2 linked regions of the Homo sapiens genome follow. The protein of the gene in region 2 purifies or fractionates together with the protein of the main gene of each other region. This does not show direct contact. Each region holds a gene or a part of one and is shown on either strand. Other genes may lie near its edges.

What was found. Proteins that work in one complex are often made in the same cells at the same time.
Region 1: the proteins of CPLX1 (region 2) and POMP fractionate together in Homo sapiens (co-fractionation; one large-scale study listed by BioGRID). This does not show direct contact.

Annotation. Positions count from the first base shown.
Region 1 is NC_000013.11:28,662,013-28,665,663, reverse strand, and holds part of POMP (proteasome maturation protein), read right to left. Parts: intron 3,255-3,651; coding exon 3,157-3,254; intron 1,156-3,156; coding exon 1,095-1,155; intron 1-1,094. UniProt on the Homo sapiens protein: Molecular chaperone essential for the assembly of standard proteasomes and immunoproteasomes. Degraded after completion of proteasome maturation. Mediates the association of 20S preproteasome with the endoplasmic reticulum.
Region 2 is NC_000004.12:791,509-795,159, reverse strand, and holds part of CPLX1 (complexin-1), read left to right. Parts: intron 1-2,551; coding exon 2,552-2,727; intron 2,728-3,651. UniProt on the Homo sapiens protein: Positively regulates a late step in exocytosis of various cytoplasmic vesicles, such as synaptic vesicles and other secretory vesicles.

The DNA.
Region 1 (3,651 bases), on a different chromosome or scaffold from region 2:
CCACTTAAGAAACAGTTTCAGGGATCAATGTTACCACAGACAATCTTATTTTTTAGTTAGATCCTTTATACAAAAGTGGAATATGTATCCATCTATAACCAATTTTCATTTCTCCCATTAGTTCTCAAAGATGATCAACTGTGCTTTTATAATCATACTCACATACTTATAAGTGTACTCTGGGCTGTCAACTTCTGCACCTGAAACCTGAATTCACTTAAATCGATGAGGAATTTTTTTATTTTTCTCATCTAATTTGAACTTCAATTTCATAATTACATTATTTGTTCTACTCTTTCTTATAGGCAGACCTATCCTCTTATTAGAAAGCGAAACAAACAAACAACAAAAACAAAATACAGATCAGTTTTCTGTTACCTAACAACTGCATCATCTTCCCCAAGTAGTCAGAAACCTTTTTCTTCTTCCTCTAAATGTTTATTTAAGAATCCTTTAAATTGTGTTTTGGACATGTATACATGCTATCCTCTCTTTAGGAGTAAACTTTCTGGTCTAAAACTGTTCAAAGGTCCCTCCTCTTCTATAAAGCCTTCCAAAAAAGCCCTAAGCACAGGTGGCTGTCACATCCTTGGTCTTCTCTAGCATTTTACGAAGCCTTCTCCTACCCACTGCTTGTCTTCCTCATTAAATTTTAAGTTATTTAAGGATGGGGATGATGTCATATTCATCGAAGTACCTACTGTGCCTAGTGGCTGTGTCCTACAGTAACTCGGAGATGCAGGACTTAAAGAGGTCAAAACTAGAGATATGAACTTGGAAGTCAACAGCAAAAATGGCAGGAAAAATATAAAAGAAACAGCATTATTGAAAGAGAAAATTCCTGTGAGAGGAATGGAGAAGTGGATCACCCTTTGGAGACGTACATTAAAAAGGCAGGTAAGAACGCATAGAAAGGGAGCTTTAGAGGAGCAGTGTAATTTTTAAGTCTATCCTACAAGGGGTTTGAAAATAACGCCTCATATTCTTCATGGGCAAATCCTCAGTACCAAAATTGTTTTAATAAAATGAAACCAATATTAGTAAAAGTATTTATCTATTAGAAGATAAAAATAAGGACATAATAATATACTTACATTTTTTTCTGATAATTCAAGGGGATGACTAGGCAAAAGTTCATTTTTCACACAAGAAAAACTGAAAGGACATTAAAAAAAAAACATTTAGAGGAGATTAAATATCACTCAATACCCAGAGCTCAAAATCATATCTATAAAGGGATGGCATGAGAGAGTTTTTTGGGGTGACAAAACTGTTCTGTATCTTGACTGTGGTGACAGTCATAGGAATTGATACATGTGCTAAAAATTCATAGACCTACACACCAAAAGGAAAAAAAAAGGTATATATAATAATGTAAGAATGTATCCATTATAGACATTGGTGGTCAAGACTTCAATCACTAGGGAAAACTTGCCAAAATCTGGTGCCACATCTAGAAGAAATTTAATGAATGTATGTTTATTGCTATTACTCTGATGAGGTACTTCTTGCACTATATAAACTAAGCCTATTCCCTTCAGGTCTAACACTTTCAATATTTAATATATCTTTAATAAACATGTTGAACAATAGGTTTAACATTTACTGAACACCTACTATGTATAAAGTATGTTAGGTAAGGCACAACTAGAACCAGGCCACTGGTCTTTATCACTCTAGCTATATAAAGATGACTACCTTATTATCCAAACTAGGATTTTAAAGCTAATAAAAACCTTAGAAACCCTGCAACAATTGTTTATTGAATATTGTCTTTTTACAAAACATTATCCAGGAAGTGGGTTTTGAAAATGGTCCTGCCCCAGTCCAATCAGGAAGAAGAAGGAACATTTCATGTGGGGGGAAAAAAATCTTCAGACCTTAGTTACTGCCTAGCCAATCAACTTGATTATAAATATCAAATTATATCTCCAATTTCACAGGCTATATGCTGCATTTTTTTACTACAAAACTGAAAGTCTGTAATGAGGGATTATATTTGTACTCAGACACCAGCATTAGAATGCCATTCTATTATAGTAAGAGTAAATTACGGCCAGACGCAGTGGCTCACACCTGTAATCCCAGCACTCTGGGAGGCCAAGGTGTACGGATCACTGGAGGTCAGGAGTTCAAGGCCAGCCTGACCAACACAGAGAAACCCCGTCTCTACTAAAAATACAAAATTAGCCGGGCATGGTGGCACATGCCTGTAATCCCAGCTACTCAAGAGGCTGAGGCAGGAGAATCACTTGAACCCGGGAGGCGGAGGCTGCGATGAGGGGAGATCGCGCCATTGCACTCCAGCCTGGGCAACAAGAGGAAAATGCCATCTCAAAAAATAAATAAATAAACAAAAAATAAGAGTAAATACTTTAAAATTAGATGTAAAATTCAAAAATTCAAAACACAAAATGTTTATGGGGGAAAGGTCGTTATCCTTATTTTATTAAGCAGAAAAGTGACCTGCAAAGAGTATGGTCTAGTACCAGAAACTGAGACCTAAACATACAGAAACAAAAAGGAAATCAAAAACATGGCGTAACTGCATGCTAAAGCTAGAAAAGAAAAAAAATGGTAGCCAATACATACTGAGTGCTTCTAATGTCAGGTACCATTTAAAATATTTTTCAGGTATTAACTCATTTATTCCTCAAAAGAAGATACAGACTATTATTAGGCCTATTCTATCCATAAGGACACTGAGACATTAATTATGTGATTTGTCCAAAGGCACACATCTAGTAAAGAGCAGAGCCACGATCCAAACCCAGGCCGACTGAATCCAGAGTTTAATCTCTCAACTGCTATGTTCTAGTGCCTCCCAAAGAAAAGTGAATTACCCTAATAGTTAAGACAAGAAGGCAAATGGCTAAGTTATCAGTAGCAAAAAAATAAATAAAAAGAATCCTACCAAATCATGCTAATGGGCACCACTGCCTAGGAGGATGCTCTAATTGGGAACCTACTACTTTGATGAGACACCTCTTCCACTACAGAAAATATCTAAGCCTCTTCCCCTCTGCACCCCATGTAAGGTATATTACTTGCCATCTGCCAACTAAATACACATGTATAGCCTATCAAAATACTTAAAGAATATTGTGAAAATTCACAGAAACATAACAAAATCAAAGTCATAACTCCCCCATATACCCTTTCCGAAGAAGATCATGACTTTCAAAAGGTCCACTTGCTGAAAGTTCAGTAACTGGAATACTGTCCTTTAGCTCAGATCCAAGTCCTCTGGCATTCTACAACACAAATAAAAAACATTATTAAATAGAAAAAAAATTTAAACACACACCCAGGCAGCTGTGTCAAAAATATTGTTTAAGTAGGAGACAGAAAAATAAGAGGCCCTCAAAAAGTCCAGACTAGACAATTACAGCAAGCCTTAAACATTATGATATGATAGAGACACACATGGTACAATGAAAATACCAAATTTAGATGTGGGAAGGATTCCTGAGGTGATCTCTGAATGCTGTCAGTTTGAAAGGCATTCCAGGAAAAAATAACATGAATAAAGGCAAGAAAATATAAATGAACAAGCTTCAGGTAGTTTGAGATAACTGGCTAAATATGTTTCCAGTGAGGCAGAAGTAAAGGCTGATGAAATACAAAAGTGAAACATCTTATGTGCAAAGA
Region 2 (3,651 bases):
TCCCTGCAGTACCCGGGCCGAAAAGCGGGGGGGCGTGGGCGGCATCTGTGACGCTCCCCAGGTTCGCGGCGGGTCCCTCTGAGCCTAGTGGCTTTGCAGCCTGCGGGGAGCACGAATCCTCGGCTCCTTAGAGGTGGGCCTTCCAGAAGCCTTTGGCGCCTGGACCAGCCCAGGGCTCAAGTGGGGCCTCCACACTCTCAGAGCGGGAGGGCCCCCCACAGGCACCCCTGGAGCAGAGCGCAGCACACCTGGTGCTCTATAAATGCCGGCTCCCGCGACCAGACCCAGAGCCTATGGGATCAGCTGGAGGGGAGGGAAGGGGCAGCCCACTGAGCTGCAGAAGCCCTGCAGCTCCCCACCCCTGCCAGGAACCCCTTCCATCAGGAGAGCAATGTGGGGAGAGACCAGGCTCACCCACCTCCTTATAGACGCCAGTCCTTTCCAGGAGGGAGAAAGAGCCACGGGTCACTCACTTTAGGGTGAATTAGCTTTTCTCATGGGGGTTAAGATTTGCACAAAGGCAGTCAGGACTGTGGGGGCTGTCCTTGCCTCCCCCACACACCTGCTAGAGACAGCCCGCTGGAGGCAGAGAGATTTTGGTCCAATGACTGGGGACTGTTAGAAGAATCCAGGAGCAACTCTACTGTGACCCAGTTTCCCTTGAGTCATGGGCCTAAAATCTGCTTTGCAAAACATGGCAGATGCGGCTGAAAACTGACCACAAGCCTCTTAGCTTTCTGTTGAGGAGTCCAGATCTGTGCTATCAGCCAAGTGCCTAGCATAGGCTGCCTGCCTGTCCCCAGCAGCGACGAGGGCAGCAAGAGGGGCTCGTTCTCCCCACACCCCACTGCCTGTGATAGCTTCAGACAGCCAGGATATGGGGGGCAGGGAAACAGGTGCAGTCGGCGGCGCCTGCAGGATGCAGGCATGGCCCTGTCTGAGTGACACCTTCAGCCCAGAGCACTCAACCAAAAAGCTATTCTCCTCCCACCAACAGCTCGGGCCTTCCAAATGACAGCTCCTGCCCACCCTCGACAGGGAGCTCACTCCTGAGTGACTGGCAGAGGCAGCACTGGCACAGATAGCTACAGGCGAGGGCGTCGCCCCAGGCTCCGTATAGCACGGAGCTTCCCGGTATCAGCATAGTAATGGCGAGGGGGAACCCAGAGCGCCAGGGACATGGAGCTGCTGAATCCACAGAAACGAGGTGGGGGGCACACCTGGACCCAGGTGGAAAGTGGCTGGGTGGTGTTAGTCTAACCCACAATTTCACCTGACATCTCTACCCGAGGCATGGGCTCAGCTGGTCGGGGGCAGTCCTTAGGAGGTCTGGCATCCAGGGGGCAGAGCCCAGAGGCAAGACCTTCAAGGAGGGGGCAGAGCCAGTGCCTCACCACTGAGGAGCACCTCGAGAGGGGGCCGGGTGGCCGCGGGGGGAGAGCGGCATTTGCAGGGGCAACGTGTGGCCAGAGTCCCCTCACACACACGAGGCTGGTCCAGGAGCACCCCTGCAACGCTGAGGGCTATAAGTGGCCATGGAGGAGCCTGGCCGCTCTGCCAAGTCACCTCCCTCAGTGACACCTGTGTGCTGGGTCCAGCCAGCTTGCTCTGCTCTCTGGAGCTGCCGAGGGCCAGGGCTCCCCGCAGTGCCTGCTGTATTCAGAGCCCGTAATTATGCATATCTGTCCTGTGGGCTGAGTTGCAGAGCTGTTTAGGGAGGTGTTTGTGGGGCCTGTGAATCAGCAGCTCATGAGAAAAGTAGTGACTAGCACCGCAGAGCAATTAGGGCCTGGGTGCCAGTAACAAGCGGTCCCCTGCAGCCCCAGCAGGGCCCCTGCCAACCCCCATGCCAGCTCCTGCCCCAGCAGGGCCCCTGCCAGCCCCCATGCCAGCTTCTGCCCCAGGGGTCAGACTTGGTGACCTTGCCTCTGACAGCCAGCCCTGCCCCTCAACCCACTGCCTGCATAGATGGCTGAACCGCACCACCTCCAGGAGGCCAGGCCTCTGCTGGACACATGACCAGAGAAGACGCTTCAACCCCTGGAAGCTCACACACAACTGCACGCGCAACCACAAGACGACAAGCCTGATCACACAACCGCATGCAGTCAACCACACACACATGCACAACCACACAGCCAGGCATGCATATGACACAAACACAGAACCACATACAGATGTACGACCACGTGGTGCACACACAAACACAACCACAACAGCCACACGTACGCATAAGCACGCAGTCACACACAGGTGCATACAGACGCGCAACCACAGCGCCACTCTCCCTCCCCCCACGGAGTTGCCTGTGTCTCTTGAGGAACAGAAAGCAAAGCAGGAGACCCCAGCACACTGGATGGAGGGTCCCGGGCAGGAGGGTCAGGGCCAGATGGAGGTGGGAGGAGCGGCTGGAGGGTGGTGGGGGCAGCCAGAGGGTCGAGTGGATGGAGGGTTTGGGGGGTCGGCCAGAAGGTGGGGGAGTGTGGCTGAGACACTAGCCCGGCCCTGGACATCTGAATGGGGCGGTCTGAATCACCAACTTCTGTACCAGGGGCCACCAAGGACATGGGGAAGATGCTGGGGGGTGACGAGGAGAAGGACCCAGACGCCGCCAAGAAGGAGGAGGAGCGGCAGGAGGCGCTGCGCCAGGCGGAGGAGGAGCGCAAGGCCAAGTACGCCAAGATGGAGGCGGAGCGCGAGGCCGTGCGCCAGGGCATCCGAGACAAGGTGCGCGCCGGGCCGGCCCCGCCTGCGGGAAGGCGGCCCTGAGTCCAGCGGGGACCCAGATCCCGCCTGGGTGGAAGGGGCTGCCCGGAAGAGGGGCGGGCGTCCCCCTGGGCCTCCTACCCTTTGGGGGCTTCAGAGTGGCGGAGGGGTGAGGGGTGGGGGCTCCGGGTTGGGCTCCCTCTGTGGGGCCCAGCCCCTCCTGCTCCTGACCACAGCGCCAGCCCTGGCGGGCTTCCTAGGCCCGCATTCCGATGCGCAGCCCTGCGTGGAGCCTGGCTGGCTGCCTGGGGCCCTGGGCCGAGGGGTCGTGGGGCGGCCACCTGGCATGGGGGGTGCGCTCTCAGGTGAGCCCGGCCTGGAGTGAGGACTCAGGGAGGGGGGCACCCACTGGGATTCACGAGGCGGCCCAGAGTGGCTGCCAGCACCAGGACAGCCACGCAAGGTCACTCCCACTCAGCCCGGTCCCCTCAGCGGCCAGGTCCGAGGGGCACGAGGCACAGGGAGCAGCCTGGGTCCCGACAGCCGCTCCGGCTTCCTCGGTGGCTCCAGCACGGCCCTGGCTGGAAGCCGGGTGGGCACAGACATCAGCCTGGAGGAGTCTCCAGCCAGGGGTGAGCGGGCATGGTGGGAGATGTTCACATCCCACGTAGAAGGGGCCTGGGGTGCTGCCTGGGGCGCAGTGCTCACCCCGTGCCCTGGCCCCGAGGGTAGGGGCCGCAGCAGGCCCAGCAGGCCGGAAGCTGTGTTTCCCAGAAGGTGGCCTCAGTCCCCTGCCCTGGATGGGCCAAGATGGCCTGGCTTCGGGGTGGGAAGGTTCAGACTCCCGGGACCCCTCCCTGCTGCCGGCGGCACCTGGAGCAGGTGGAGAAGCCGTTTCCTGGCCTTGTGTCAGCCGCACCCAGGGAAGGGTGGGCTTCACGGGGT